2 separate regions of the Homo sapiens genome follow, and region 2 is linked to region 1. The links come from fine-mapping of genetic effects on gene expression. A gene starts in region 1. The other region holds a variant in brackets. All regions are shown on one strand. Distances are between the middles of the regions. Region 1 holds the start of ANAPC13 (anaphase promoting complex subunit 13). Region 2 overlaps KY (kyphoscoliosis peptidase).

What was found.
Region 2: its variant is fine-mapped to the expression of ANAPC13 in whole blood (TOPMed, PIP above 0.99).

What each region holds. Positions count from the first base shown.
Region 1 is chr3:134,477,704-134,493,934 of GRCh38, forward strand. It overlaps ANAPC13 (anaphase promoting complex subunit 13), which reads right to left and starts at 8,282. Exons shown (of 3, transcript NM_015391.4): 1 at 8,249-8,282; 2 at 5,103-5,228; 3 at 3-1,012. The coding sequence starts at 5,201. The coding sequence ends at 887. CEP63 (centrosomal protein 63) reads left to right here and starts at 8,354. Exons shown (of 15, transcript NM_001353108.3): 1 at 8,354-8,499. RefSeq lists enhancers at 7,937-8,056, 8,087-8,186, 8,267-8,376, 8,468-9,286.
Region 2 is chr3:134,600,572-134,616,802 of GRCh38, forward strand. KY (kyphoscoliosis peptidase) reads right to left here. Exons shown (of 11, transcript NM_178554.6): 9 at 9,624-9,812; 10 at 8,078-8,268; 11 at 1-3,903. The coding sequence ends at 3,008. It also overlaps a transcript of CEP63 not described here. Among named protein-coding and RNA genes, the nearest start is that of KY, 42 kb to the right of the region's middle. RefSeq lists a silencer at 3,496-3,790. The variant T/C (reference allele first, on the strand shown) is at 6,735.

The sequences.
Region 1 (16,231 bases):
TAAAAAGGATGAGAAGAGATTTTAGTTATTCAGTGTTTTCAGAGTTTCAACAAGGGATACAGATACAAGCAGCTTCTTACAGAGTTTACAATCTGGGGAGAGAACATGAAAGACACTGTTTAACAGGCAAATAATTCCAGGAATAAATATACATGAATGTGTTTTTCAAAATACAGGTTCTTATACAAATGTATAACTAAATACTGATTCCATAGTGGGGTGGTTGTAACTGAAAGGGCTTTGAGAAAAGGCTTTGAATAAAACTAGTCATCCACCTAGCCAAAGATCCTTTCCAGCAGCACAAAAGGAATTTGTAAGGAGAACAGAGATTAACTGTCAGATATCTTTCTAATCTGTAAATTTATCCAAAGTTTGAAAATACCATGAAGAATCTTAGGAATGCCAGTAACCAGGGAATGGGATATTTGCATATCACAACATCTACAGGCTAAATACACTCCGAATGCTTCTCAATGTGGGGAAGTATGAGAAGTTAATAATTCTCCTAGTGTCTGGCTTCCTTTTTCTTTGCCTTTCCCTCTCATACGTTCAATCACCTGTGTTACAGGACACACATAAGTAGTTGGAAGGTGTTAAACTTTGACAGCAAAGCAAAATCAGAGGTAGAGGCAAATGTTTAACCAATCATGTTCAAATATAAGCTACTCAATGAAGAGTTTTAGGTTTAAAGAGCGAAATATTCACCATTACTGAGAAATCTCAGTTTCTCATTCAATTTCGCATTGCACTTTGCTACCACAAACTAAATGGGTGTACATTTTTGAGTGCTGATTTATTACTCAAAGGTTTGAATTTGGAGACTGAAACAAACCATGCTTTATCTGTGTACTTTGAGAAAATCCATCCACAAGAAAGGAGCCAAGCGTCAGTTTCCAATGGGGGGAACATTCTCATGGAGGTACTGTAAGGCTAAGTCTGTCCACTTCATTTCTTGTTCTTTGACAGATTCTGTGGTGCCACCATTGTCTTGTTCAGGTTCAGGAAGCTCATTCTGAAAAGGTACAATAGAAATTCAGAACAGTAATATATTCTGCATCTTCTTGGAACTCAAGAACACTTAGAATTAAAGCTTGTGAGTTCCTAGGAACAGGCAACATAATTGATATGTGTATTCTAAAAAAGCTAAAATCATACACGTGAGGAAACTATCAGAAGTATCATTCAAACATGGCCCGGGCCTTCTTCAGTAGGGAATGATGGGCATTTTGACTCTGACATTTGTGAAGGAGGCACTGTGGCAGAAAGGTTAAGGGCAGAGGCTTTTGGAAGCCAACTAGGATCCAAGACCACAACTCTCCCATTTGCTGGGTTACTTGGGCAAGGTATGCAAACCCTTGGGGCCTTTGTTTCTTCCTTGGCAAATGGGAGAACAAAAGAGCCATCACCTCACAGGACTACTGTAAGGATTAGGTGAGGTAATTCAGATCAAGTGCTGAGCACTCTGTGGGGTATCCAGTGCTCAAGGAATATTTGCTATTATTATTAGCGGCTAGGAACACTGAGATGAGTGAATCCTAAATCTTCTTTAGCGGGAGCGTGCTTTAAAAGAATACTAGTTTGCTGGCATATTCCTTAGACACAAGAAATGTATCCAAAAAATTATCTTGGACCCAACATGTCTTTTTTTTTTGAGATGGAGTTTTGCTTTTGTTGCCCAGGTTAGAGAGCAATGGCGTGATCTCGGCTCACCACAACCTCTGCCTCCCGGGTTCAAGCGATTCTCCCGCCTCAGCCTCCCGAGTAGCTGGGATTACAGGCATGCACCACCATGCCCGGCTAATTTTGTATTTTTTTATTTTTTTTTAGTAGAGATGGGGTTTCTCTATGTTGGTCAGGCTGGTCTCGAACTCCCAACCTCAGGTGATCCACCCGCCTCAGCCTCCCAAAGTGCTGGGATTACAGGCGCGAGCCACCGCGCCTGGCCCAACATGTCTATATTATAATAAAAATGGAGGTAGGGCAGGAAACACTGAAAATGTAATTAATAGATAAGACCTCCCTCTAGTGGTGGAGCAGAGCAACAAAAAACACAACAAATGACCAATTCACACCCTACCAGCAATTTTCTTAAAATGGTAAGTCATGGGCCACACTTACTGTAGGATCTGGGATCATTTACTTGTATTTTAAGTTTAAATGTATTACTACTGAAACTCTGCTTTGTACCAGAGTTCACAGATACCAATATATTTCTTTTCAATTATCTGTGTTTTGTTTTATGGTTAGCAAACTGTTATGCGATATCCAGACTTAAAATTTTCCACTGGATTCTAATTTGTAGTATGTGAATATGTTTTCCCCTCTAAAATTATGCTCAATATATATTAAATGATATTTACTTATCTATATTTGAATCACATACATCTTGTTCTACAAGACAGATTCAAACATACTTGAACAGATTGAGAAGAGCTATCATTTATTGTAACGCAATAATATATTATCTTAAACTTAAAAAGAAAGTTCAGTCCTAATAATTACTTATAGATGACAAAGAATAAATAGGTCCTTGGTTAATGAATTCTTTAATTCAGAAGCAGACAACGTTGCTTAATTTCATCCTATCTGTGGTATGCTTTCTAAAATAATGTGTCTTTCATTTGGTATCTACTGTCCCTTGCAATACATGCCAACACATAAAATGGCATATATGCCTGGAAAACAAAAACAAAAGTATCATAAACCCAGCCACCCATTATGGTGTACTGTAAAATGCCCTTAGTTCTTTGCAGCTACTCTTATCAAAAGGTGAAACTGATTTCCCCAATCTTGGATTTGGACTGGCCCTGTGAGTTGTTTTGGCCAACAGAATGAAGCTGTCATGCCAGTGGGCCAGTTCTTGGCCTAAGCTCCAAGAAGCTCTGCCGTTTCCTCTCAGGTTGCTCTTGGAACCCTGAGATTGAGAAGTCTGGGCTAGCCTGCTGGATACCAGAGACCATGGCATAGTCACCCCATCACCCAGCAGACAGCTTGTTAACTGCCAGACATGTGAGACAGTCCTAGATTACCCAGCCTCCAGAGTCTGTTGGCTGACTGCACAACACAGGCAAGCCTGGCAGGGATCAGCTGAGCTGGTGCAGACTAGAAGTCCCTCCCAGCTGAGCTACAAAATCATGAAATAAACAGTTGCTCTTTTAAGTCACTAAGCTTTGGGGTGACTTGTTATGCAGCAAAACCTAACTGGCATACACATTGCCTTAGAATCGCAAGACAAGCGAAAGGTGTGGATTAGCAGCAGGGCCAAGCCAACTTCGCCTGGAAGTCAGCAGGGAAACCTCCTTCCACCCCTGCCACCCAAATGTTCTCCAATCTGAGCCATAAACTTCTCCAGAAATGGACGTCTCCTTTATTTTCTTGACTTTGTTTAGGCCCTCCTCCCTTGCCTAGACCACAACAGCTTGCCAATTGGTCTCACTTGCCCCTATCTCCATGTCACACCATCTCTAACAATGCTGGCTAAACTGATTTTCCAAAAGCCAAATCTGAGCATAGCAGTCTTGCTTTTAAGACCATTCATTCCTGGATCTCCTGAGGATGAGGTCTAAGTGTGATATCAAATACCACTCTCAATCTGATCCAAGCCCAACTTTTCAGCCTACTTATGTGACAAATGTATTCTTCATCCACAGTGAATGACTCACCATGTCCCAAAGCCTTTCAAAACTCTGGGCCTTTACACATCTGTCCCCTCTGCTGCAATACCCTTGTCTACCTCCACTAAACTTCTGGTCCTTCCTTATGACCCAGCTTAAACATGACATTCTCTCAGAAGCCTTTCTGATGCCCACCAGGCAATCAGCCACTTCGTATATGATGTGGCTGTTTATGCCCCCACCTAGAATATTTATTATCACAATTACTTATCTATAAGTGTTGCCTTTCTAGACCCCTCAGGAGGAGGAACTGTATCTTATGTTCACATAGTCTTATGGCACACAGTAGGCTTCAAAAAATGCTTGTCAAATGAATGAATGAACAGAAGTTCACAAGACAGGATTTGGAACTTCACAGACCTAGGTATATGTTATATGAAGCCCTACTTACCTGCTACCAGACTTTGGGCAAGTTGCCCTTTCTGATCCTATTCTTTTCCTATAAAATGGGAATAACAGCACCTCCCTCACAGGGTTGTTTAAGAATTAGAGATAATGTATATTTCCAACCTCAGTCCATGGCATAAAACTGGTATTCAATAAATGACATCTATAATTCTTATTATGCTCTCTCTTTTGACTATTTTCCTAAGCTTGAACTAAGCTATGACTTATTTGATATGTATATTATTCATTGAACATATTACTATCTCTTATTCGTAAATGAAAATACAGATGAACTATTTTATTTCTTTGCAAACAGCAACAGCAGATATTCTAACTATAAATTATATTTTATTCAATACTAACTACTCTTCTCAGGGCAGCTGGCATGCTTTAAAGAAAAACAGTCCTGTTTTCCCTTTTTTAGGCCTCTATGACATAAATAGGATTTTAAACAAACATTTATATAAGCAAAACTTTTGGATCACTTATTACATGAGGTTTAACAAACTCCCTGCAGCAGAGTTTTCCAAAGATGGGGAAGAAAAGAGTATTCCAGAAGGCCACTGGCCTAAACGCAAAAGAATACCCAGGTATCTTCTGAATATTTTCCAGGGAACCTAAGATAGGTGTATGCTCCAAGAATGTAAGTTTCTAAAAATGCTGAAAGACTGATGAGCCACAGGCAGGGAAGTAAGAAACAGAGCTCATATGCTGCTGCTTCTTGTTCTTCCCCATCTTGCGCATTAAACTCTCATTATTTGGTTTCTCTGGTTTTCGTGTGGTGGACAGAACATGGCTCAGAAAATCGGGGCTCTAGTCCTGGCATGACTCCTAACTGACCTGGCCATGTTAGCTCCCTGAACCACATTTTTCTTCAAATAAAACATACAACTGGATGCTCTCCAGAAGCTTCTAGAGTTAGAGAATTCCACAGCTTTGATTTCTTTGCCACACTAGTTTATCTTCCATTGATATCCCTCCTCCACTAGTTACTGCCAGATCAATACCTTTAACCCATCCTCAGCTCAAATCATAACCTACCAGTGGTATTGCGACATCCTCATAAGGCAGCTTGTCTTCTCGCCAAGCATCATCAATCAAATCCAAGATCCTTCCATCTCTCTGAACCTCACTGTCCATTTTCCTGCAGCTTTGATCTTGTCAAATCTGTAAGCCAAAGAGGTTATTTCTTAAACACGAAGACTGAAGAGATGGTATAATCCACTATTAGGATTCTCCAGGCTTTTTAGTCTGGGGCCACCTTTTGGGAAAAGGTTCATTTTCTCATATGGGCCGGGTGACTACTTTGATCACAGTTCCTCTCTCCAACCCCAACTGATACATATTTTATAGTGTATACTGGACAGGCATAGCCCAGCTGACAGACCAGTGTCATAGAGTGTGACAGGAGAGCAACACGTTAAACGAGGCCCTCAAATATTAATATGTTGCATCTCAATGTAGCTCTTCTCTTCTAACTTGAACATTCACCTTTTCCTGTTTGTGATGCCTTTGATGAGTCCCTGATTCATAATGGCCAGCTAAGTTTCCTTTCTAGCCCCTGGCTCAAACCTCAGCATTCTTAGGCACAGGAGTCACACGAACATACTGTAAAGGAAACGGCTTCCTTCCCTAAAATAGTACCCAGGCTGAGATCTGAATAAAGCACTTCTAGGTGAACACCAGTGGTAGAACCTCATACTGCTAAAGTTTCTCCAGTTTCTGCTTCCCTTTGGGGTAGCTCCTTCCTCGGAGGTTCCTTCCTCTAATTCTTAACGCTACACTCCCTTCAATTTCTGGCCCAAATGGTCACGATGCTTATTTAGCTCCTTGACCATGGCTGATTCCCCATTTTTCTCTGAAACTGCTATAATCTAATCCAAAAGGCTGGCTAGCTTGTAGGATACTTCTGGATTTCCCTGTTTCCAAGGTTGGGCCCTGACTCATCATAGGCATCATCCTATGGGTGCTCCCTGCTACCAAGTGACAATCCAAAAAGCCCGGAAGCCACTGGCATCAAAGGTACTCTCAGTTTCTGAGACTATGGAGACTCACACAATAAGCAATTTTGGGGTGGTGGAGCGGGGTGGAACCCACCATCTGGAGGTGCTTTTTTCAGAGCTCAGCCTGGGTGATATTTTAAGGAAGGAAGCCATTTCCTTTACAAGCTCAACTTCAGACATCGTCTTGCCTTGAGGATTTGTGTCAGGTCTGTAGTTGGTCCCTTCGCATAGTCCAGTTTAGTGTTATCTCAGTATGTTCATGAGCTCCTGTGCCTAAGAACGCTGAGGTTTGGGCCAAGGCAGGTGGAAGTTTTTGTAAAAATGGCTCACAGGGCCGGGCGCGGTGGCTCGCGCCTGTAATCCAGCACTTTGGGAGACCGAGGTGGGCGGATCACGAGGTCAGGAGATCAACACCATCCTGGCTAACAGGGTGAAACCTCGTCTCTACTAAAAATACAAAAAATTAGCCGAGCATGGTGGCAGGCGCCTGTAGTCCCAGCTACTCGGGAGGCTGAGGCAGGAGAATGGCGTGAACCTGGGAGGCGGAGCTTGCAGTGAGCCGAGATAGCGCCACGCGCCACTGCACTCCAGCCTGGGCGACAGAGCAAGATTCCGTCTCGGAAAAAAAAAAACAAAAAAAACCAAAAAGGCTCACAGCTGTCCCCCATAGGATAACTGCAAGATATCCCTAACACCTTGGCAAAAATTATACACAGATTGGTGTGGGAAAGGGTTTACACCCCCATGACAAGGATCTCGGCAAAAGTTAAGCAAAATGCGCCCTGCTACTTCTGTCACCGGTGAGCCAGGTGAGGGCTTAATTAATCCAGTACTCAATAATTAACCGAGTACTACCCAGTGGATAACTCAAAGCAAGACGAAGTTTTGGTTATACTTTTGAAGTCCCTGTCTTACAAGTGCTCCCCACTTTCCTGCTGCTACTCCTTTGTCCTTGCTGCTCTGTCTCCTGGGATACCCTTCTCACTTTCCTCAGCTGATCCAAACCTGACTTTCGGAGGCCCACGTAGATTTTCCACCTTTGTAAAGTTTTCTCAAATCACTCGAGCTTCAGTAGGCCTTCTATCCTTGAACTCTTGCTTCTTGTCCTAACTTAATCTACTAAACAAGCTAGGTCAGCTTTGTGGTCAATTGCTCAGGTATTATTGCCTCCAACTGTTACGTGTACATTTTGTACCCATGATTCCTTAGTAGATCTTTCCACATTTGGTCTCAATCTTTTTCACCTGTCCCTTCTCCAAACACCTCCAACCCTGTCACATTTTCCAGCCTTGACAGTTAAAACCCCCTTTTCCACATCACTAATGCCACTCTTCCTTTCAAGATAAACGCAGGCGTCAGCTCTTGAAGGTCAACATCCCATTTCCGGGATTAGGCGCGAAGGTGCCTTCCCTCATAAGGGGCTGGAAGGATGGGAAGCATCAAGATAATCAATGCCCAGGGCACACTGATTATCTTGTGTATTAAAGCCACCGTCCCAAGTACTCGTCACCCAGTACGACCACTGTTTCCTGAACAAACTTTTCTTACTCACGTGACAGTCCCGATGCCTGCAATGCTCTTTGTTTCTTCCTTTTTATTCCAGTGAACCCACAGTCAGTCTAAAAATCTTAGGTCCCAGGTCGCTTCCTATAGGAGGCCGCCTCCAAACCCCAGGCTGAGTGCGGTCCCGGTACCCACCCCTCCAGGGGTCTCACAGTTCCCTAAGCACAGAGCATGGCACCAACTGGGGAGTCTGTCAAACAGCCCAGATGAATGTCTTTCCAAACACGCGGTGCCTGCGTTTCCAGGGACAGGGACACGTCTTATCAATTTCTATATATTACAGCTTTGTAAACATAATATTTATAAAATCAAAGCGGGAAAGCCTTGTTCCTTGCTAGAAATGAGCCTCGCAGGCCACCACCATCCGCACCGTACGACAGGCCGTCCCTCAGCTGCGGCTTCCTGCCTCAGGCAGGATGTACCAAACGTGGAAGCGGAGACGGGGAGGTCTGGGGGTGCCACGCAAGTCCCTTTCCTCCCGACACGAGTGCAGTAAAGAAAAACGGTTATGAGCGTAAAGTGACAGCCTCGGCCGATGGGAATAGGGGGAAGTCCGACACTGAGCAACGAACGCATTCCCGCGCCTCCAAAACCTAGGCCGGGGGCGCTGGAAACCCTTACCGGCACCCGGCCACCGCGGCAGACGCTTGCTCCTGCCACGCCCCCCCCCCCTCCCCCGCATCACGTGTCTGCACTCGCTTTCCTCGGATTCCCGGATGTGGGTGAGTTCATTTGCTCGCGTGCAGGGGAAGTCTGGAGAAGGCATTGTTTCAATTATTAAAAGTGTGGGGGCAGTGGGCGGAACAAACGCGCCGACTACAGAGGCTGGACGTAAGCTTAGCGGTGGCGCGCGTGCGCAGCGCCGGCCCGAGGTAACGGCGGGAAGGCTCAGGGGCGTGCTTGCGGCAACCCTGTAACCGCCGGTGCGCAAGTTGGAGGGGCAAGGGGCTGCCGTGTCCTGGTCTGGAGGCGGCCCAGGCTGCCTTGGTGATTCTGGCTTCGCGGCCTCATGGCTTGCGGCCGGTTTGCGCAACGGCCTGCGAACCACCAGGCGCGTCCCCGCCGGCTTGGGTCCGCCCCGAAGCCCAGTCCCTCGGCCTGGCCCGCTATGCCCTGCACACTGGCGGAGTCTGGCGTGGCGCAGCCCGGCGTGGGGTTCGGCCCCGCCAGGTGGTCAGCCCTTCCTCGGAGTCCAGGTGGCTGGGGGCGCTTCGGAGAGTGGCCAGGTGGGCGAGCGAGCTGCGCCCAGTACTCACCTTCCCCGGCGGACCCACCTTCCTTTTCAGCGGAGAGACCCCAGTGCGGCCTCCCTGCCAGGGCTGCTGTCTAGCTAGCGCTGTTGGGACTACTTCATTCACGGCACAAGGGGACCCGCTCATTTAGTGTGGCATGTTAAGGTTGGCAGCTTTTAAAATAGTGAGTTGGTTTAAACGGTTATGTTAGTACAAGAGGTACGGAAATGTGGCATAAATCGTGGACTGAAATTGGAGAACCCTGAACTAACGGCTCCATGCACACAAATGAGGGATAGAAAGAAATAAGGACGGTTTCTTAGGAACACTTTAATCATGGAGATACTTGAAGACAGTACATTTAGGCTTATAATGTGGTTTTTCTTACGTCCCTTACGACATCAGGAGAGTAAAGATGAGTATGATGTCAGAGACAGGTCGTCTTTTACAGTTTCAGCACCGTACGCTGATATGCACAGAGTAGTTTTCCCTGAGCCTTATGTCTGGTTAAACTTATTAAAAGAATTTATTATTTTAATAAAGCAGTATTGTAGGGTAGATGCCCTGTATTTATACAGTTCCTCAAGTGCTTGCATTTATTTTTTAGATACGAGGAAATCATAAGGATCGTTGATTAGATTTCTGTTAGCTGTAGCTTAATGATAAAGTGTATATATTTTCTTATTTGGCATGCAGTACCATTTTTAGATTGATTTTTATTTTGAGTTTGCTTTTTGACTGTGGCATTATCAGTGATCAGGGTAGTAAAAAGCTCTGAAACTAAATTAGAGTAGAGATTTATAAACAGGCACACTGCCTTTTAAAATGTATGTAGATGCAAATCTAAAAGTTGTTTGTAAAAATTGTGTATGTTGATTGTACTGATGCCATTTCCTCTCGTTAAAATGGTGGAAGACCTTTGCTTAGTCCTTTCTGTTCTAATTTATGTTGTGCTGGCAGATGGTGACAGCATCAGTAGTCCACTCTGTCATTGCTTCCTGCTTTCAAAAAATGTCAACTTGACTTGAAATTCAGCTAAAGCCAACATTGACAGAAGGTTTCAGGAACTGAATCTCCGATCTTTATGTTATTTTAGTCCGCCTCCCCGCCCCCATCAGGAGCTAGGTTTTTCAGTTTTACAGAGCCACAGTACTGTCATTACACATACACAAATTAATAAAAATTCTCTAATGTCAATATCCAGTCAGATAACGATTTCTTCAACTGTCTCTTAAATGTCTTTTTACAATTAGCTTGTTTGAACCAAAATCCCACAGGGATCTGCCTATTGTGTTTGGGTGATGCACATTTGACATCTTTTAATCTATATTTGTTCCCTCATAGTTATAGCTATGGGATTAGCCCCTATTTTTCCTTACAGTTCTAAATTTAGCAGATTGCATCGCACAGTATCCTTTAACATGTATCTCTGTTGCCTTTGTGTCCTCTAAACCAGGGGCCCCCAAACCCGGGGCCGCAGAGCAGTACCAGTCCGTGGCCTGTTAGGAACCAGGCTACAGAGCAGGAGGTGAGTGACAGGCTAGTGAGCATTACCTACCACCTGAGCTCTGCCTCCTGTCAGATCAGCCGTGAGGTTAGATTCTCCTAGGGGCACGAACCCTATTGTAAACTGCGCATGCAAGGAATCTAGGTTGCACACTTATAAGAATCTGACTAATGCCTGATGATCTGAGGTGGAATAGTTTCATCCTGAAACCATGCCCCTAACCCTGTCCATGTGTATTATTCATATTACTGAAGAAGTGGTTGGCCGGGCGCGGTGACTCACGCCTGTAATCCCAGCACTTTGGGAGGCCGAGGTGGGCATGAGGTCAGGAGTTTGAGACCAGTGTGGCCAACATAGTGAAACCCCGTCTCTACTGAAAATGCAATAAAATTAGCCGAGTGTGGTGGTGTGCGCCTGTAATCCCAGCTACTCGGGAGGCTGAGGCAGGAGAATCACGTGAATCCGGGAGGCGGAGGTTGCAGTGAGCCGAGATCACACCATTGCTCTCCAGACCAGGCAAGAGTGCAAGACTCGGTCTCAAAAAACAAAAAAAAGTGGTTTGGCCATTCCTCCCCCAAAACATTTCATATGAATTTTAACAAAAAGATATTTACAAAATGTGTTATTTCCGCCCTGTCGGTGTTGAGAAATTGTCTTCCATGAAACAGGTCCCTGGTGCCAAAAAGGTTGGGGACCACTGCTCTAAACCAGTAGTTAGATGTAGAATTGCACTGTCCGGTATTGTAGCCACCAGCCAGCAGTGGCTAGTTAATTAAAGTGAAATAAAATTAAAAATTCAGTTCCTAGGCTGGGCGCGGTGGCTCACGCCTGTAATCCCAGCACTTTGGGAGGCTGAGGTGGGTGGATCACGAGGTCAGGAGTTCGAGACCAGCCTGACCAACATGGTGAAACCCCGTCTCTACTAAAAATGAAAAATTAGCCGGGCGTGGTGGCATGCGCCTGTAATCTCAGCTACTAAGGAAGCTGAGGCAGGAGAAGGAGAATCGCTTGAACCCGGGAGGTGGAGGTTGCAGTGAGCCGAGATCACGCCACTGCACTCCAGCCTGGGTGACGGAGCGAGACTGTCTCAAAAAAAAAAAAAAAAAAAAAATTCAGTTCCTAACTTGCATTAGCCACATTTCAAGTGCTCGGTAGCTACAGATTGCCTGGTGGCTGCTTTTTGAACAGTGCAGTTATAAAATATTTTCATAATTGCAGAAAGTTGTATTGAACAGCACTGCTCTAGAAGCCTGATGAGATTTCACCCTTATATTTGTTTTTGTTTTGTTTTTTGGTGGGATAGTTGGGGGGGTTGGACAGATAATTTCATAGGTAATGCAGTATACTTCCTATTTCATTAATTATCAGGGAAGCAGTGTCTGAGTTGTTTTCTTTTTTTATGATGTTAACATTAAACATTATATTGGGTTTAGGTGTAGTTAGCTCCATCCACCCATAGTGAAATTCCCCAAGACTCTTTCACTTAGTGGTGAAGTCCTTTTGTGGGGTTATATTGCCTGTATCCGTTATTGCATTAGAGGTTGCAACGTGGTGATTATCTAATTCTATTATTTCTTCAATATTTATCAACTGAGAGTCTTTTATGAAGAACTTTCCCTTTCCAGCTGTTTGACTACCCTGAAATACAATTTGTACAGGAAAGGCAAGAAAAATGCTTAATTCTTTGCCTCTATTTTCAGACCACAGTAATGAGTTGGTGGCCTAGCAGCCTCCAAAGGTAACCATGAGGGTTTTTGCCTTTTTGTAAACCTATAATCATGAACTTATAGACTTTATATTTAAACTGTTTCAACATATGGCAGTTGTGTTTTTAATACTCAAATTGTTTCATCTTTGGCCAGTGGGAGCTCCTTAAAGTTGGCTCCTATTCCATTTGATATGACCAATAGCTTTGGTAATTTCCTTGCTTTCTGGTAAATAATTTTCCTGGCTCATTTATAGATTTCTGGTCTTCAAGGAGCCGTGGTTCTTTTGAGTCTGAGATAGTATTTGGAGACCACAGTCTTACCTAGGTGGGAGAGGTGTTCTTGCTACTAGGTTAGTCGTTAGTTCTAGGATTTATGGTGGCCAGAGTTAGGAAATATTATATATTAAAAAAAACACAAATATGCAAAATTCGCATTGTTTCCAACATTTAACATTTAAATTTCCAAAATTTAAACTTAATTTTACAGTTTTTTCACACGTTGGATTTATGTTTGTATCTTTTTTGCTGAGTCTTGGTGCCTAGTGCCATTAATAGAATTAGTTTTTTTTCCTCATCCTATGTTATATATAATGGTTTCAAGTTAACAGGCTATTTTATTATCAATATGATTCCTGAATAGTGCTTAGGATTTCTTTGCAACTGTCTTTTATCCTTATTTTATATGTCTCTAGGAAAGTGTATAGTAAAATTATTGTATTTAAAGGCATATGAAGTAATTTATTGTATAGTTAGCCTATCAAGTTGATATCTAGTTGGTAGTTGATTTATTTTATTTTGTTTCCAATTTTTCAGTACTGCTTTTTTCCCCATTTTGATTTGTTTTATTATATGCAAAACCTTAGCATAATTCCCATAAAACAAGTACCCATAAAACAATTTAGCTTTCATCTCTGTTTCTTCCACTCTGCTTATTTTCCTTCCTTACTGATACTGTTTTTACTAGTTTTGAGTCTATCCTTCCATTAAAAAAACACATACCTAAAAGCAAATCTACATGGACAAACATACCTTTCTTTCTTAGGTAAAATGTGCTATTATGTATACTGTTTTCCATCTTGGGTTTTTCACCTAGTGATATATGTCCTGTAGATCCCCTCCTTAGGAGTATGTAGAGATTGTTATTCCTTTTTACAGTTTCGTAGTACTCCATTGGTGGATGAATATTTAATTCGTCCCCTCTTGATAGACACTTGTGTTATTTTCTGCTATTACAAATAGTCATGCAGTGAATATCCCTGTGGATATGTTGTTTTGCATTTTTGCCAATGAGCCTGTGGGATAGATTCTTAAAAGTAGCGTTGTTGGATAAAAGGGTAAATGCATATATCAGTTGTTAGGTATTACCAAAGTCTCCTCTATAGCAGTTGTGTTCATTTTGCATTCCTACCTATTATGTATATGAGTGCCTGTTGTCCCACAGCCTTGTCATCAGAGTGTATTATCAAACATTTAATTTTTGGTTAATCTGGTACAGAAGAAAGGGTAACTTACTGTAGTTTTAATTTGTATTTCTCTTATGAGCAAGGTTGAACATCTTTTCATATTTTTACTGTCATTTGTATTTTTCTGTGCATTGCTTGTTTATACCTCTCGCCCATGTTTCTATAGATTTTTTGCCTAATCTTTTATAAGCTCCTTATATATTTGGGTAATTAACCGTTTGTGGTAAAACTTTCAGGTACTGTTGTCATTTGTCAGTTAACTTTGCTTATGGCACTTTTTCATATAAAAGTTTGTTTTTATGTACTCCTATTTCTCAGACTTTCTCATTGTTCTTCCTGGATTTTGAACTATAGTTTGGACAATTTTTTAAAAACTTTAATATTTTGAAAAGTTTCTCTAATACCTTATTTACTGGTATCAGTTTAATTAGGAGCCTTTCTGGAAAATGCTTAGTAATACTGATTGTTCATCGGAACAGCCATAGTTTACTGGCCATGGTATATCTGACACAATCATAGAGCTTTGTAATGAAAACGACACCAAGGCAGGTACAGGGACAGAGAGCATTGTTATCCTCCTTTAGACTTGAAGGTTAGGCATATCCCTTCTCTTAGTATGTACACATTTATTCATAATTCTGTCTGGAGTTTTTATTTTCTTCCTGTGTCCCATTTTGTGAATAATTTGGTCTTGGGCATATACTATGATATTTTTCCTGATCTGTAAAATGATAAAGTTAAATTAGAGGCCTGAAGTGCTTTCTAGCTCATAAAGTCTATGTTAATGAATTTCAAAGATTTGCCTATTATAAGACATTCTATTTGTATTCTTTTTTTTTTTTTTTTTTTTTGAGACGGAGTTTTGCTCTGTCGCCCAGGCTGGAGTGCAGTGGCGCGATCTTGACTCACTGCAAGCTCCGCCTCCCGGGTTCACGCCATTCTCCTGCCTCAGCCTCCCGTGTAGCTGGGACTACAGGCGCGCGCCACCATGCCCGGCTAATTTTTGTATTTTTAGTAGAGACGGGGTTTCACCGTGTTAGCCAGGATGGTCTAATTTTATGTAATTATATGGCACATGCAAAGAAGAAATCAAAGTGACATAGTGCATAGAGTTGAATGATGGTCAGGTTGGTTAGGAAAAGAATCAGTGATATAACTATGAGCAACTCAGATGACAAACATCCACAGAAAATCAGCCCTTACTATTTGCCTGATCCTGAGAATTGATGGTGTTTGGCACCAGGCAGATGGTGAAGGTATTACAGAAACACTTTGCACATTAGTAAGTTTACTTTATTTCTCACATAGGATATTACTGGTCCACTTCCCTCCTTTTTTTTTTTTTTTTTAAACAGGAATCTCTATCTTAGACCATTTTGATTTCTAAAATAGCAATATTTCTTATGTGACTATTTCATTATTGTGCTGCTGCCACCTGGTGGCCACAGTAGTGATGTCATACTTCAGTTTAATTTCTTTTTTTATTGCAAAGACACTATTAAGCCAAAAGATAGGCTGATATATTTTAAGATATAGAATACTGTAAAATATATAAAGGTTGCACATCGATTGTGACTCAATTGATTGCCACAATGTCTAGGTTGAATCCAGGACTATAATTTTTAGTTTATCATAGTCAAGTTATTTAACTCTCTAAGCCTGTTTTCTCAAAGTAATAGTATCTGTCTTTTATGAGTATAGTGAAGATTGATTTAGACAATGTGTACAAGGCAGCTGTTGAACATTCAGTAACTTAACTTCTAAGTATATTATTAAATAGTCATAGAAAATATATTAATGTATATTACTAAATATATTAATGTTTAAGAATAACATGACCTAAATAAGTATAATTTTACTAATGATAATTTTGAATAACTGTGATAGCACTGTCAATAAGAATAGCACTTTCCTACATGTTAGTTAAGTATCCGTGTATGGTTGTCAGGAGCATGCTACTTACAGTGGACATTTAATTGGCTGTTAGAACCCATGAAAAAGCTGGAAGAAACCTTAGAGAATATTGTTCATGCCCCTCATTTTGCAGATGTTAAAACAAGTCCGAGAATATAAAGCTAGTTAGTTGCAGAGTAGGACTGTATCCTGGGTCTCCATCTAGTGTGGTGTGGACCGTGTACTGCCTCCCAGTTCTCCTAGAGTGGACCAAAACATGGAATCTTGGTTGCATTGTAGTTGGACTGTATTGTGATTTGAAAGTGGAGTAAAACATGGGAACCTTTTTCTTTAGGTTTTTATTTTTGCAATTTTGGTGTAATATGTAGGATAAACCAACTAGAAAAAAAATCCTCCCTGTCACGTTTGTGCACAAATAATTTAATACTCAGTTTGTTAGTATCTTTAAAAATAGATGCAAATAAGGTGCAGTGGTTCTATTTTCCAGTCTTCTCATTCTCCTCTGTGTCTCTGGAACACCCTGGGCATGTCTCTCACTATATTTATCACACTGGGAAAGCCTTTTTGGCTCATTTTTTTCTGTCCCATACTAGACTATTAATACCTTGAAAGGGGCCATATCTTTCATCACTATATATCTAGTTGTTAGTACAACATTGAATTACGTGTTGAGTAAAATAATCTACTTCTTACAGCAGTATAATTTTTAGATGAGGATTAGCCCAGGGGCAGAACCTCTACACCACAGTCTGGTTATTGTCTTAAGGGTTTAAGGAAAAA
Region 2 (16,231 bases), 120 kb after region 1:
GTTGTAGTGCCTCTGCCCACCACTCCTCCACCCTCGGTTCCCTTCTGCCCTGTGGCCTGGGGGCTGCCATCCTGAGAATTGCAAGCAGATACTTTCTGAGTTTGATCGGTTCCAATCCTTCAATGGTATAGTAATGAGTGTAGTCACAGCTGTTCCATCCAGTCCTATGTCAAGTGCTTCTGTTTCAAGAAGTTATTTCCAGGCAAAACAGTCCCATCACATCCCTTGTCTTTTCAACACACCAGGTTGTCCCCCAGGATGCCCTCACAGCTTGTGCGTGACAAAGATGTCCTCCGTGTACACATAAGGTAGCGCTGAGAAGCCACGAGAAAGCACCTAGTGATTTTAACATAAACATTTCCACAGCATTTTCAAGTTCTGCGAAAAAGCCCGGTGATAGATCAGCCTCGCGGTGTGCAGCGCCGGCAGCTCCGCACTTCGGACACCTGGGGGCGCCCGTGCCATTCCGCCGGCGACTGGGACTCGTCGCCCGGGAAACAAAGATGGGGATTTAAAGAAAAGCCTTCAAAATGCAACTCCGAATGTCTACCCTGAGCAGCATGCGTGTAAAAATTCATGAAGATTAGATTTCATTTCATGTATTTTTACTTCAGTGGAAAGAAATGCAGGTGATTTTCTGACTGCGCCTACAGCTGTCTTTACAAAGGGGGTGCCTAGTTAAACGAGAGGGAGGGGCTTGCTGATGCCCTGCGGTGCTTTGAGGGGCGGGGCCTCCCTCTCTGGTGCTGGGGACAGCTCCTATTTTGCTGGGTGGCATTCTCTGCAATGCTCCAGGATGTATTGATTAATTATATTGCATATCGAAAAGGTATGGGGGTCTCCAGCAGGACTAAGCGAGGCAGCCAGCGCGGGGTCCAGTGAGTGACATGCGTCATCGAAGGCACTTATTGTTTTGATGAAACAAACACATTTCTTTAAGCCCATAAAATCAGAAGTGTGCAAGACGGCTGTTTTCAGGGTGTAAAACTCCCTTTGTTTCCCTGTGGTGGTGCATAGCTGTTATGCCTCCGGGGCCTTTGTGCATTTTTCAGGTGTGAGTGACACGAGGCTGGCTGGGTGGCCTCGGTGGCAGAGACTGCGGAGGGCGCAGGACCTGCCCAGGACAGTTCAGCCCCCCAGGGGAGACACCCCTTTTGCTCGAGGCCGCCGGCCTGTTGGATGATGGGCACCCTTGTGAGCTGGTTCTGGGCTAGGCCACCGTGCTGGGTGGCAGTGGGGACTTTTAGGGGAGGGATCCCGGGGGATAATGAACAGAAGTGTCTGGAGCCTGGATCTTCAGTCAGGCCTGGGCAGGGAAGGCTGCTGCTGCCTGGCAGTTTCCTCACCCTGTACTCTGGATGGCAGGGGCCGGGCCCCCTTGGTTCACCTCTGTAGCCCAAGCATCTGGTACTTCTGTGAGCATTTGTTGGATACAGGGATGTGAGGGTGAGTGCCACGGAGGAAGCTATGAGGGTCCCAGCTGGCCCTGGCTGTGGTTGAGCCTGGAGGCCTGTGGAGGGGCTGTGGGGAGAGGTGCCAGGCAGTGCTGGCTCTCAGGGGTTGGGGGGCACTGAGACAGCCAGGGGCCACGGAGCTGGAGAAGCCGGGAGTTCAGCAGGGAGCATGTCTGTGTGCCAGGATGGTTCTGCAGTGGCCATGTGGGGCCTCTCTCGCCTTTCCCTCTTATCTGCCCTCGCTGAAGTCAGCCTTTCCTCCGTTGCCATGGCAACGGCAGCCTGAGGCGCTGCTGAGGGCCAGCTGGGCAGCTGAGGCCTCTCAGTCTGTGCCTGAGCAAGCAAGGAGCCCTGAGCTGTCCCCATGCAAGGTGAGACTGGAGGGGGCTGTCTTCTCAGAGAAGGGAGGAAAGGAGACGGGATAGGATGTTTTCTCCGAGACAGGCACAAAAGCTGCTCTCGTGCAGCTGGAATTCTTCCCAGCCCTGGCTTTGCTGGTAGAGACACTGGGGGCAGGCAGAGCCCTGTTAAAGTGTGAGTCTCCTCGGCATTGCCGCACTGCACTACTCACCTGATCTGCGCCCAGGTCCTTATTCAGGGCTATCCACAAGACTCCCCAAGGGCCTGGCCAGCCTCTGGAGGCTCTCTGTGGAGGTGGGGCAGGGGCCTGAGGCCCAGGCTCTGTGAGGGCCTGGAGGGCACTCCAGGCCTTAGACTGAACTACCTGCCCTGTGTACTCCTCTCAGAGCAGAGCTGGAGGTCTTACACCCTCAGACCAAGGCTGCAGCTCTGCCGACAGTGTCCCTCCCACCTGCACAGCCACAGCGGGCATGGGCTGCTCTTTGCTTTGCAGTCTCCTCACAACTTTCTGGTTGTCACATTCCTGACTATACTTAGGGATGTTGGAGACGATCAGCTTCCAGCCAGTTGTGGGTCAGCTGGCTTCCTCACCACACCCTTTTTCTTGGGCTCTTGAAGAACAAGAAGTAGCTAATGAAGAGGCAGCAGGATGCAGAAGATGATCAGGTCTGGGAGGAGAAGATAGTCCAAGATTCCCTGGGGGCTCGGAGCTGTCGAGAGGCACGGTGATATTGCTTGAAAGGGGCTCTGTGATTCAAGGACAACCCAGCCTTGCAAATCATGTCCCCTTGGGCATGGAAGAGAATTCTCTAAGCATCATGTGAAAAGCTGTCAACCTGGGCAATATCCCTGCTTTCCCTCATCAACCCTACAGCAACAACAACAGCAGCAGCACTAATACGAGAAGGGGCATCTGGATGCAGGTGTACAGTTTACAATACCTTAGATTTACATAGCACCTTTTCCTTCTAAAGAGCCACTGCCTCTGCCCCCTCAGTCACAGCCACACCTGAGTGAAGCCTTCAGAACACAAAGATCACAGCTCCTGTGGCAGAGGTGGGACACTGAGGCAGAGGCCTAGAAGGGATTTCATGCAGACTCAGTGGTGTCCAGGGCTCCCTGCACTTCCTTCGAGCCCTCCCTGGGGAGGTCTGGCCTTGGCCCTTTGGGAGGGTAAGACCGGGGCACAGCCCTCACTGGGCATTCACTTTGTATTTCAGGATGTAGGAGTAGAAATTGTGGTTGGCATTCTCCAGCACCATGACATAGACTTCCTGGCAGCCAGCTGTGCTGCAGCTTCCCTCCCAGTAGCCCTCGTGGTTCAGGGTCAGGGGCCATGTGTCCTGCCCCTTCACCAGGACTTTGGCAATACCATGCAGCTTCAATTTGAATGGGACATTCCGGTTGGCAGGAAGCACACCTGACAGAGGTTCCAGCAGCTCATTGTCCTGTCCCCAGTTGCCAAAGCTCTCAGGGAACATGGGCCAGTTCACCTTGGTGTTGGCACAGCATACAAGGTAATTAAAGACGAAGATGTAGTTTCCTGGTTCCTGCCTCTTCTTGACAAAGATCTTGAGGGCAAACTTGCCTGCATGGGGCAGCTGGACTTTCAGCTCGGTCTGCTTCTCCCGGTGCAGCTGGAAGATGTAGCGCCGCTGTGTCTCCTCAGTGATGGGGCCATCATCCCCGTGGAGGGAAGCCAGGACATTAATGCCCTCCTCCACGCTGAAGCTGATGGAGCAGCGCCCGTCGCTGGTGTGGATGATAGGGTCAGGGTGGGAGGGCTTCATGATGCCCATCTGCTCCGAGAACCAGCTGGGGCCCACGGGCTGGTGAAGCTCAGCAGGCAGCTGGACACCCATGTCCACATAATTGCACTTGAGCGTGTACTCCAGCACTGAGCTGTAGATGTCGGAGTTGCCCTTGGCAAAGATCTGCAGCTTGTGAGTGCCCATGGTTGGAGGGTACACCTCCAACTTCATCCCATTCTTCCTTAGGCTCAGCAGCCCATGCTCTTGCTTGCCATTGAGCATGAACATGAACAGCGTCGGGGCGCAGCTCTCAATGGTGACCGTGGCCTTCCCATTCACTGAGGAGAGAAAGTCAGGGTCAGCAGAGATGGGTCCAGCACGTGCTGATGTGCTGGTAAATGTTTAACAACTGTCTCCCTGGGAGAAAAACGTCCTGACTTATAGAGCTTGTCTATTTCCACGGTGTTAATACTTTCACCACAGTCCATTTCAAGCAACCAATATGACTTCACTGAGCATGGCATCAGCCAGCGGCAGCACACCGCTGGAAGGGTTCCCTGCTCCCTTCAGGTGGTTTTCTTTGAGAGAAATGAAAGCTAAGGGGCCTCTAGAAAAATTTATCCCAAGCTGTATGTGTGCATCCTGCCCAATTGATTCACATTAGATGAAGGTTGCCTGTGTCCAGAGAGGGTCATGGGTCAGGAGGGGCACCATCTCCCCCAAGTCTCAGGTCTAGCTTGCACCTTGCTCCCTGTAGCATCTGTCTAAGTGTCAATGCTGTCATGTCAACGCATTGTCCTTAAAACTAGTGAGAATGGCTTCACTCCCTGAGACTGTGCATAGGAGGTTGGGGTGGGGCAGTTCCCTGATCCCCACCTCCCCCACCCCATGCTTCTCACATAGGTGTATCTTAGCCATGTTTCAGGAATGGGTCCTGAAGAGTCAGTGTGTGCACAGGAGGGTCTTTTGCAACCCCCACACTGCCACCCCCCATCTCTCCCCTTGCTCTGAAGTTTCATCTTCGTCTGTCCTGGTCATTGATTTTGAGGGACAGGTGGTCAGTTCTCCAGTCTTTGTAGCCCATGAGGACCCACCTGCCTGGTCCCTCCTGGCTTCCAGGGCCACAGGGAGGGACCGTGGCTTCTCTTAGAGCCTGGTCTTAATTCTCTCAGAAGCTGGTCATCTGCTCCCAGCCCCAGCAACCTCCCCAGCCCCGTTCACAGTTGAGTGCAAAGGAAGGAGAGAGGCTGTCTGATCCATGTCCCTAGGAACTTTCCCCTAGCTTGGACTCTTGGTAGGGGAGGCAGAACACTGTGCCTGGGCTCTAGGACAAAGGCCTTAATAGACTTCTCATTGAATCTGCATTCCATGCCAACTCCCACCTCAGGAATGGGAGAAGACCACATGGGCCAGCATGATGGGGAGGCTGCTTAGACAGCCCCTCTACCTTCTTCGTGGCTGTCCCAGCTCAAAAGCTGTCCCAACCCTGTCACATACTGCCCACTCCGCACCTGCCCTACACTCCCACACATCCCCCCACTGCCTCCATTTCCCCTCTGCCGGTCAGCTCTCTGGCACTGCAGTGACTTCCCTCTGCCCCCACCCTCCAGTGACTTCCTAATAACGAGGCCTCTCAGACCTTGGAGGACCTAGGCTGCTGGCCTCCACGCCTTCCTCTGAGTACTCTCCCCTCTTTGCGACCCCCACTCTTTGAGGACTGGCCCTCATCCCACTCTCTGAGCACTGCTTAACTCCAATGCCATTGCTTCCCCTTCTGTTACACTGAAATTGTGTGACTCTTGGTGCTTTCATGCTATTTTATTTGTCTACATGCTTTCTCTACTGCCTTCAGCCACTGCATGCCACATCTGTCCCATGGTAACCTCCAAAGGAAAGTGACCAAGATCAATAGAGTTGCTATCCCCTCTTGGTGAAAACCCTCCTCTCCCCTCACTTCTGAACCAGCTCAGTGGGCAGAAGCTACCTCAGCTCCTCACTGCTCACGGCCCCTGGTCCTGTTCCATCTCACAACTGGCTGTGAGTCTTTTCTGCACAGTGAAGCCCAGATCCCCCTGAGATTCACCTTTGATTGTGGAGCACCACCCAGCACCCCACACAGCAGCCCCAGGGCTCCTTTGAAAACGTCCACCTGGCTACTCCTGGGCTCACGGCAGAGCCCTCAAGCTGGAGACCCGTGGAGAAGCCTGTCTCTTCCTGCCTCGCCAGTATCAAGCACTCTCTCAGATCCTCCAAGGCCACAACCCTTCATGCCTCAGGTTCCTCCTACCCTCTCCTCCCTCCCCACCACTTCCCCCAAACCTGGATAAGGCTTCATGGTAATGTCCCCGTGGCAAAGCAGCCCACCCGGACCCCTCAGCTGAGGCTGAGTTCCCTGGCAGCTTCTCTCCTAGCCCTGGCTGTCCTTCAGGGAACGTTCCACTGCTGTAATTCATCATGTGATCATTTTTGTGTAGTGTCCGAACTCCTTGCTGGCCTGTGGGCTCTGTGGTGAAGGGGCTAGCCTGTTTCATTTCCTGCCACGTCTTAGTGCCTGGTTGTGGTGCCTCACCCAGAGGGTTCTTGCCAAAGGTGTGTTGAATGACTGGGAAGACTTGAAATAAAGGACTAGCCACCCCTGCAGACCTCTATGGGAGTCCACGGCTCTTCCAGTCCCCTCTTCCTCCTCCTCCTCCCCTCTCCCCTCCACGGCACTCTCCTAGAGCCTGGCAGCTTTCCAGCCCCTTATCTAGGTGCCCTCTTCCTTCCCTTCCTTTCTGCTCATCTCAGTTTCCCTATTTTGTTTCCTTCCCCTCCCCTCTCTTAACAGAACTAGCTACCACAAAGAAATACTCTGTACATAAGTATCAGATATATGGAATCATATTTAGGTTTAGATTTCTATAAATTAAGGAATCTGGTGTTTATATTTTTATGTCTCTTAAAAAGGCAAACTCCACTCAATGACATCAGTTTGGTGTTGCTTTGACCTGGTCAGTTCTTTCCGATATTTCCACGGCCTATGATACATTGAACAAGCCCTGCATCTGTTGTAAGCACAGGAAATGGATTCTCAAATTGAGCAACTTCACGCTGTTATTTTAGCTGCAGGAGCTGCCAGGTATTTGGAGTTGGAAGAGTTTGCAAGAGCTCAGCAACTTGGCAAAGGAAG[T/C]CATTGTGTGGTGGAAGGGACAAGTCAGTTGGAACTAACTTGGGGACACCTGTGCTCCCCGCTGCCCCATTGCCCTGCAATGTGGGTTGGAGCTCCCCAGGGGCTCTGGGCCCACCCACAGGCACCCTGTGCTAATAGTCAGTGTGAGCTCAGACCTCCTGTCCTGGGCGGATGGAGGCCCCAGTGGCAGAGACGGTGCCACCAGGCAGTCCTTTGCTGAGGTGTGGGAGGCTGGACTGACCCGACTTACAGGGCTGTGCAGCGTGCCCAGGCTGTGTGCCCAGCACTGGATCAGGTGCCAAGGCCTTGGAGAGGCATAAGAGACAATCTTCCAGAGAAGGCCCTGCTTTTTTGTGACCAGTTCTGGCCCTCCAGGGCAGCCCCCGTATGCCTCAGAGTGTGCAAACATACTCAGCTGCCATGGCTCCGTGGTGAAGGTTGGGAGAGCACATGTCAGCCCAGGCCAGCCATGGGAGATGGCTAAGCTGGGTATCCTATACTGCCCCAGGGGAGTGGGCTGGAAACGGCTGGGTCCCGCCTCCAGAAGGGAGGGGTACTGAGCCAGCCAGGCAGAGGTGCTGGAGCTTGGCCCTCATCCAGGGGTGCCTGAGTTTGGAGGCTGGGGGCTTACTGTGTCCCCGCCTCTCCTCTGCTGCCTAGAACATGTCCATCTCTGTCTAGCTACTAGGCCTGTTCTCCTCTCCCAAGACCCAGCTCAGTGGCCACCTCCCTAAGGAAGTCTGCCCCAACTCTCTGTCTTGGGTGGGACTGCCCCCACCTGTCCTGGGAGACCCATGTTGCTCCCCATCCTTGCTGGTTGGACCACCAACACCCAGATTCCAGCTCTGCTGAGGCCATGTATTCTCTCCAGCAGGAGTTGGGGAAGAGAACACAGCAGGCCAGTAGCTTCTGTTGGGGACCTGAGCCCAGAGGCTATGTGTAGCCAGGGTGACGTAGTCCTTTTCCCTGCTATGTGAACTGAGAGAGACTCACCCAGCTAGGAAGTGCCCAGCCCTGGCTTCTGTGACATGCCAGGCTGTGTGTTCAGCCTTCAAGTTCTAGGAAACCTGCAGCCTTCAGACACATCCCTTTCTGGGTTTATGCTAGTGTGAGTGAGCTTTTGTCCCTGCTGATGTGGCCTATGGCCCTTCCCTGCCCTGATGGCCTGGGCTGCCTCAGCAGCCTCCACTCATCCACATGCACACACAAGCTTTGTGCTAAGCTCACAAGCCATGCGTCTGGAAGGGCATGCCTTGAAAGCGCAGTCTCAGGCGGGCTCCTGGAGGACAGTGCGAAATGCTCCATTCCTGCTGCTAGCACACTGGCACCTGCTCCGGGCTCACCTGTTCTGATCATGGAAGTCTCTGGGTGGGCACTCAGCATCCCTTTGTTGTAGAATTCACTCTTGTGATACATGTTGTTCTCAAACTGCCTCAGAGATTGAGGAGGTTTTAGCAGCTGCCAGTTCTTGTTGTCTGGGAAGTGGTCCTCGATGAACAGTGCAGGGTGGGTGAGGAAGTAGAACTCATTGTAGCTGGAGCAGAGACAAGCTGGTTAGCAGCCAGCTCCATGCAGGGGAGGCAGGGGCCCAATACACCCACCGGAGTGGTCCTATGGACACCCTGGATGGGAAGAGGCACCATCTCCGACCCTAACATGGGCACTGGAGACTCCTCCTCAGTGGATGCTTCCAGAAATTGTAGTCAAGGCAGGGTCTGAGGTCCCTTCTAAGGGAAGGCCACAGCCTGCAACTGTGGTCTGCACTCAGTGCCCTAGGCTGTCGAGGGGAAAACTGACTGCCTCATGCTCAAAGACAATCAGAAGTTCAAAGGGGGGAAAGGCATAGCCTGTGGACCACGCAGTGGGGTCGTGGGAAGGCAGGGAGACAGAGTGCTTGAATTCACTGCCTCCATCTACCCCAACCTGTTTCTGTGCTGTGCAGCTGTGCTGGCGGGGACCTTTTGTGGCTCTCCAGGGCCGACTGGAGTGCTGCCTCTCTGGATGTCAGTAATGGGGATCAAGAGAAGAACAGAGAGGCCCTTCCTGAGATGGGGGTGGCTTTGCTCTGCCTAAGAGGAGCAGTGTTGAGAATAACAGAGGTAAAGAGGGTATCTGTGAGTACGCGAGCCCTGCGTGTAGGATGTGTGTGCACATGGCTTGTATTTGTCCCATGTGTGGGAGTGTCAAGATTTAAGGTGCAAAAATCGAGAGAGCACACTCATGTTTCTGAATAAAAAGGAATCTGAGCTGCTGATAACATCATGATCCATGAAGAATATTGTATGTAGCCTCAGGTTAAGGCCAGGATTGGCCAGAGCCCCAGAGGACAGAAATGCTCCAGTCCTCTGCACCCCGGCTGCCCTGCCCCACTGTGCCTCACAGTGACCCTGCACCGCCAATAGCACCCCTTCCCCAAAAACCACAGCCCTTTCCTCAGAAATGTGATACGGTCTCACTCAGACCTGAGAGGAGAAGGAGCCTGGTGTCTGGGCAAAGCAGTAAGAGATCATTCTGGCATTTGTGCCTGGTAATGTGGTCAATGGCCAAAGTCTGGAAGGGAACCTGCCAACAACTAAAGAAGGCTATTAGCCCACCTTTCCTCATGTGTGGTCTGGGGGCAAATGCTGCAGGCTTTCAGTGCTTTGGTGGAGGGAGTTATAGGGAGTCAGAGTGGGGAGTTTGTCAGTGGAGGGTGAGGTGACAAAAGGGTCTGGGCCCTCACAATTGGCCTGGAGCCAGCCCACTTCAGAGCCGAGGAGGAGTGGGCATGGGGCCTCCTGGCTCTCCTTCCCCTCCCGCTTGGTCTTCTCCACCTGCTGCTTCATGCTGCCTGGCACATCCTCCACTTCCACCTGCCAGACGCCCAGCAGAACTGAGACAAGTACTTACAGGAAGGTGAATTTGGAGGTGATGGTGTCCACCAGGCCGCTGCCCCAGGTGCTGTCCACCAGGTGCCATCTTCCCTCCAGGTACACAGCATTCCAGGCATGGTCAAACTCCCCCGAGAAGCTCTGCCCTGTCTGGTAGCCGAAACCCTTGGAGTAGCCAGGCACGGTCATACACTGCACTCCGGCGAGCCTGGGGGCAGGACAGGGGGTCTGAGAGGGGGATCCCGCTGTGGCTTGCCTCCAAGTCTGTCCATGGTCTCAGGTTTCAGGCATGTTTGCTGCCCATCAGTCCTCCCTGTCTATCCTTTTCCTTGCTTCTTGTACTCACATATAAACAGCCTTGATGGCTTTTATCTCGGGGCACTGGGGACAGGGAGATACAGTGCTGGCTGGTCCTGTTGGTACAGACTGGCTGCAGTCTCCGCTGTCTGCTCCTCCCCTGAGACCAACACCATTCAGATCACTTCTGAAATGTTCATCCCTAGAGCCTGCTTGACACGCTCCTCAAGCAGCTCTTCAGGAGGAAAAAATGGGGGCAAGCGTGAGGCTGGCTTCAAGAAAATAGGAGCAGGGGAAATGACAATGTTCCTGCAACAAAACCTACATGTAAGGGGCGAGCACAGCTGCTGGGAGAACCAGGGCGCTTCTGGACATGCGACTGAAGAGATGGGTCTCGTGACATGGGTGAGGTGTTGTGGGGTTGCTGGTTGTGAGGGTACAGAAGCCAAGCCCTACCCCCCTGCTATTCCTCCCAAGGATGCCTGCAGGGGAACCCCGGGGCAGGCGGTGGATGTCTCCAGCCCTGGCCCAGGGAGGACTGGCCAGCTGCCAGTTTGCTCAGGTCTGACTGGTGGGTCTGTCCTTTGTGAACATGGTGCAAGAGCCATCATGGTGCATTAAGGTCATTTGCTGACTGCCTGCCCTGGCCACAATTCTGGAGTCTCCTGTGGCTGTCCTGAGGGGAATGGAAATGCCGACCAGTCAACCTGAGCTTTGGGGTCCTTTTGACATTGTGCTCCTTCACTGCTCATAGTAGAGCTGGCACTGCTTTCTGGGAACCTGGATGGGAAGATGGGCATGGGTCACCTCTGGGGAAGATATAAAATGAGACATTTGGAGCTAAAACCCTGAGGCCCAGGCCTGGGCTGTGGGCACCAGTCCAAGGCCAAAGCAAGACCCCTGGGTGTCCTTTCATGGCCAGCTGGTCTTGCTCCTCAGCAGCCCTGCTCCCCTGAGGACAGCCAAGGGGATGGACTGTGCAGACAATTTCACTGCTAGTCTGACCTAGGGACATCCCATGCTAGCCCTCCTAGGGCCTTTGTGTAAATTAGAAAAGGTTCCCCTTCCTCAAGACATTTTCCTTGCACTCATGGAAAATTGGTGTAATAGATACACAACCTGTGAAACCGAGGATGTGCTTGATGCCCCTTTGATGGGGCTCCTTTGAGTACCACACAAGCTGCTCAGTCCCCAACTCAGTGGTGACCCTGTGCTGTACTCAGCTGAGCTGAGTCTGCAGTCCAGGGTGTTGGTGGGGTCTGTTTCAGTGAGATGGGCCCATGGGGCTGGGCCCTTCCACAGACCAGGGCTGCAGCCTCAGTTGCTCTAAACAAGAGGGCCACGGAGCCTCCCAGGGGAATGGGGTGAAATGGCCATGCATCTACTATAGGAATTGGGGGAATCTTCCTTGTAAAAATGAACATGTAATTTAAAATTAGCAAAATATTGGATTAAATATTACTAATACATATCACTTGCTGAGAGAGTCATTGGGATCAAATGTGATGTCCTGAGGGTTAACAGATTCTACTTTCCCAGCCATCAGTGTTTCTTCACATGCATGCAATGATGAGGTGTTACCATGTCTGCCTTAACCTCTGCTCACCTGTGGAAAGTCCGGGCCACTAGTGCTGAGGTTCCTTAGGGGCTTGGAAGTTTTCTAGCCCCCGCCCTTTTGCCTGTTGCTTCACAAAAGGAGGTTCAGGCCTCCTAAGCCCTCTAAGGAATCCCATAAGAACATACCAGCTTGGCTCTGTGGGATGGCTTCTGGGAGCACTTGAGGGCATGGGGACAGACTGCAAGAGAAACTAGATCCCAGTGTTGTGATTTTCTGCTGGCAAAGGCCATAAGCCACTCCAGGGCAGAAGGAGGCAGTAGCTGAGGAGACCGTGGAAGGAAGGGGAGAAGGGGCAGCCTGCATACCTGGAGTGCTCTCTCCTCATTTCTCTGCAGTGCAGAGAGCAGAAGGTGGTGGGGAGTGCTGAGGGGATGCAAGGCTGAGGGGGTTGTTCTCAGGATGAGGAAGTCTGGATGTGTTTATAGTCTGAGAGGAAACAGCTAGCAGAGAAGGACCAGAGGAAAGCAAGGCCAGAGGAGTGGGTAGAGGTGTAGGGGTGGGATAGACATTCTATAGGAGGTGGGGCCCCATCTACTCAGAGACTGGGTGAGGAGAAGAAATGTTGTGAAAAATATTTAGTGAGCTAAGCAGTGCCCCTGACACGATGTGAACTGACAACAGCATGTCAATCTCTCCAGTCAGCACAATGTCACGCCGATGCTGTGTGTGTGTGTGTGTGTGTGTGTGTGTGTGTGTGTGTGTGTGTTGCCTGCATGCACAGAGAAGGAGGGGCAGGGAGTGAGAGGGGGAGAGATGGCACAAAAGGCACCTGATCTTTTGGCAATGGGATTATAGGTGATTTTAATGTTTTTCTTGAAACTTCTCTGTATTTTCTAAATTTTTAATAATGATTATGTGTTACTTTGAGAATTGGAAAAAAAGCCATAAATACTACTTAAAATTATATTCTTCAGGAAATTACTTTCCATTGCTGCCTAGAATGTCTGTGCATATCACTTTCTAGGATGATGTGGAGGGATAAGGGGAGTCCTGGGAACAATGGGGCTTGGAGAATGGCTCGTTTTGCATTAAGGTGAACTGATTTAGCGGCGCTGTGGACCTCTGGACATGCTGCCCACTGATGCTTGTCCTCTGCTCAGAGCCACCTGGAGTCAAGGAAGGAAGGAGAGGAATTTAGCATTTGTGCAGCCTCCAGGCGGTGGGGTAAATCAGAATGGGTATGGAATGTCCTCCTGGGAGAAGCCATGTCCTAGGCCGTGTGCCCAGGGGGACATCCTGCCCTCAAGGGAGTGAAGTGGAGGCAAGATTGGAAAAACCAAGTCAGGGAGCAGCAGCGAGAGCCTGCCCCAGCCCTGGAAAGGAGAGCAGGAGGAAGAAGCAAGGGGCAGGGATGTCCACCTGTACTGCTCTGAGTGGGGGTGATGGCCCCTGAGCCAGGAAATAAGGTCACCTCCCAGGTCTGGTGGTCACCTCTAGAGTGACCTTGCCAGGCTTATCATGGGCAGAGAGAAATGTTGGCATTAAATGATCTCCAGGGGTTGATTCTTCTCTGACAGGCTGAGGAGAAGCTGGGAAGGCTGTGGGGAATGCCTGGGGCAGAAAAAAGATGAAAATATAAACTCAGTTATAAGCTTATGCCATGCTTGACTCTGATATGAGGATATTTTATTACCTGGCAGCAATGTGCCAGATGAATTGGACAAAGAAGGTCATAATGTAAAGCATTATTGTTAATATGCCATAATTCTCATGCAAAATCCTCTGTATGTATAAGACGATGATTGTGGAACCCACAGGAGTTTTGTCTCCAGCCACTCTTGCTAGCCAGGATGAACCACAACTCTTTCATGTCATCAAAAGATCACTGGCCGCACACACTGTGTATAAAGCACTGTAGCAGGGAATGCTATAACATGACATGGCACCATACAACGCAACACAATGTAACAACATAAAAAAATATCATATCCCCAAAATAAGGCTCAGTGGCTGCCCTAGATGTGCTGATAGTTGGAAGGAGGGTGGATATGGGAACTGTCACTGGAACTGTCTCCAGAACTTTGCTTATAAAATCCCAGTCTATAAGCAAAGACCTGGAGAGCCCAAAGGTGGAGGAATTAACTTTGCAGGCAGGAGCTGAGAGAGCACGGAAGGAGGGGCCGAGGACTAGAAACATTTCCACCTCCTGAAGAGCTCCGACCAGCCATCCCAGAGCCTAAAATATCACCCAAGGAGATTTATTTAATGACCTCAGACTGCAGAATCTTCGCTTCTACTTTACAGAATTGACAACCTCAATTTTGCCTCCATAGCTCATGGCTGATATATATCCCAAGCCACAATGAAAACATGGATGTAAGATGCCCTGAACAAGCTGCCAAGGAGCACCCTGGAGGATTTGGAGAAAGCTGCAGCCCCCACTCTCCAGCAATATCAGGGCTCAGGGACCCAATCAGAGAAGCCCCAAGGGCTGCAAAGGACCACATGGCCACCAAATGTGGCCTGATGGGAAGAGACTGAACAGAGGGGCAGCCAAGCAGAAGGCAATGTCATTACCTGGGTTACCCTTGATGAACCCTGAAGCTGCTGAGTCTTCTATGAATGCATTATCCTTATTATTTAAAAAGATCTGTGTGTTCCAGTTTGGTGCACTGTATCCTAGTGTATTAATTTGGTATTATTTTATACTGAGATGGTCCAGGCCCTGCCATAGGAACTGTATGATGCTCCTACAGTCAGTACCAAGGCCAGGCCCCAACAGCTGTGTGGCTGAAATATCTGGGTGGACAGGTGCACCCTACACCAATGGGCTCTGACCGCAGTAGACTTTCCCAAATCTGATCACCTCTCCTAGGATGTGTGAGCCAAGTGAGGGAAAAAGGGAGGGAGTGTGCCTGTAGGAGAGACTATGAAGTATGCTTTTCTTTTGGTATTTTGTTGAAAATACTGTGGTTTCTATACTGCAGCAGGACAAACAAACCATGACTTATCTTTCACAATTTATGTACTTGATTTCTTATAATCTGACAGTGTGTTTATATTTCTCCCATGTGCTCTCTTTTCCCTTTTCTTACACACTACCCTTACAGCTACGTCAATAACTAGTAATCTTGATAATAATTCTCTCTCCAGGGCCCCATGCAGAACCTCATGAGACGTGACTTCAGAGGCCTCCTCTCTGAAGGTGAGGGAGGCGTCAGCTGTTCAGAGAGAGAGGCTGCCTTGCCTGGGGACACACAGCTAGCCAGTGGCCGGAGCAGCAGTGGATGCAGTTGTCCTGATGCATAGTTCAAGAAGCTTTTTTTTTTTTTTTTTTTTTCACGTGTGAAAACATCTATTGGGAAAATGGAAAAATCATTTGACCTCATATTCCTCATAGCTGACATGGTAAGTTAATTTTTTTTCTTTTTTCTTTTTATTTTATTTTATTTTTGTTATTATTATACTTTAAGTTTTAGGATACATGTGCACAATGTTGCACCAGCTCTTTTGTAAATCAAGATTTTGTTTTGATCTATACACTTGTAGGTGGTATAGAGAGTGAAATGGAAAGGTGGTTTGCACCAGTGACATAACTCATCTTTGTGAGTGCCATCCTTTGGTGTAGCTATAAGGGTGGGGGAGCTAAGATGTCCCTTTCAGAGGCCTTATACACCAGCATCAGATTTGGTGATAATTTAAGGTTATCCAATGAATCTGCATCTCCCAGAAGGCTTAGATGGCCACTGCCTATCTTTTGGGGCCTTTGGAACCAAGTGATGTTTTAGGATTATAGGGGACATACTGCTAACCAGAAGCAGCCATCTGACTGCACACACTCCTGCCCCTGCTCTCAGTGACAGCTGGAGGATGAGTGGAAAGCCAGCTGACATCTGATTGGTGACAACCAACTCCCTCAGTGTCAGGGCTCAAACTCGTAATAAGTGCCTGGCTTTATCCAACGTCTCTGAAACCTGCTAGCTGGTGATGCTAAAGCCATGCTAACGGGAAGAGAATTTACTGGAGGCCGACTCAAGAGCAGCAGTCTGGGGAATTAAGCTTGGCTCCTGCGAGGAAATTAGGCAGAATCAACTAAGGATGCAGGCAACTGAGGCAAAAAGAGAGACATTAATGTTGGATGATAGAAAGTCAGAAGGAAACTGGACCAGCAGTTACAAGCTATAGCATTAACCAAAAAACCCCACATCAGTGACTTGGGACAGACAGAAGGAACTGAATGATGTTGTGAAAATATCTGAATTCCTCCCCAAATTACTTTATTAAATCAGTCTTTAATGAGACAATTTCAGGGAGGTGGAATGGACTGGCAAAAAGTAATGATGTCCACCCTGACAACCAAGAAGGGATAAATCAGCAAGTGCGGATTATATGTCCTCAGTTATTAAGGAATTAGCTAATTAATTTACCAAACTTTTGGCAGTTATTTTAAAGGTAAAGAGAGTTAGTAGAGGGATGCATAGATAGGTTACTGATCTTTAAAGAAACAGTTAAAGGAATTCAGGGGACCGTGAGCTATTGCTACACATCTCAGGCAGTGTGAGGAATTTTGCACATGGTAATCACCATGTTGGAACTAATTTTAAATGATGCAAAATGTTAGGGAGAGTTTTAATGATAAGCTGCAGGCCAGAATAGGGCCATTGTTAAGTATCTGGACCAGGGCAAAAAGCTGACAGTTTCACTCAAGGCAAGTGTCAATTTTCTGAATCTATGTAGGCTGGCAGAGTCTGTAGGAAAACTCCACAGAGCAA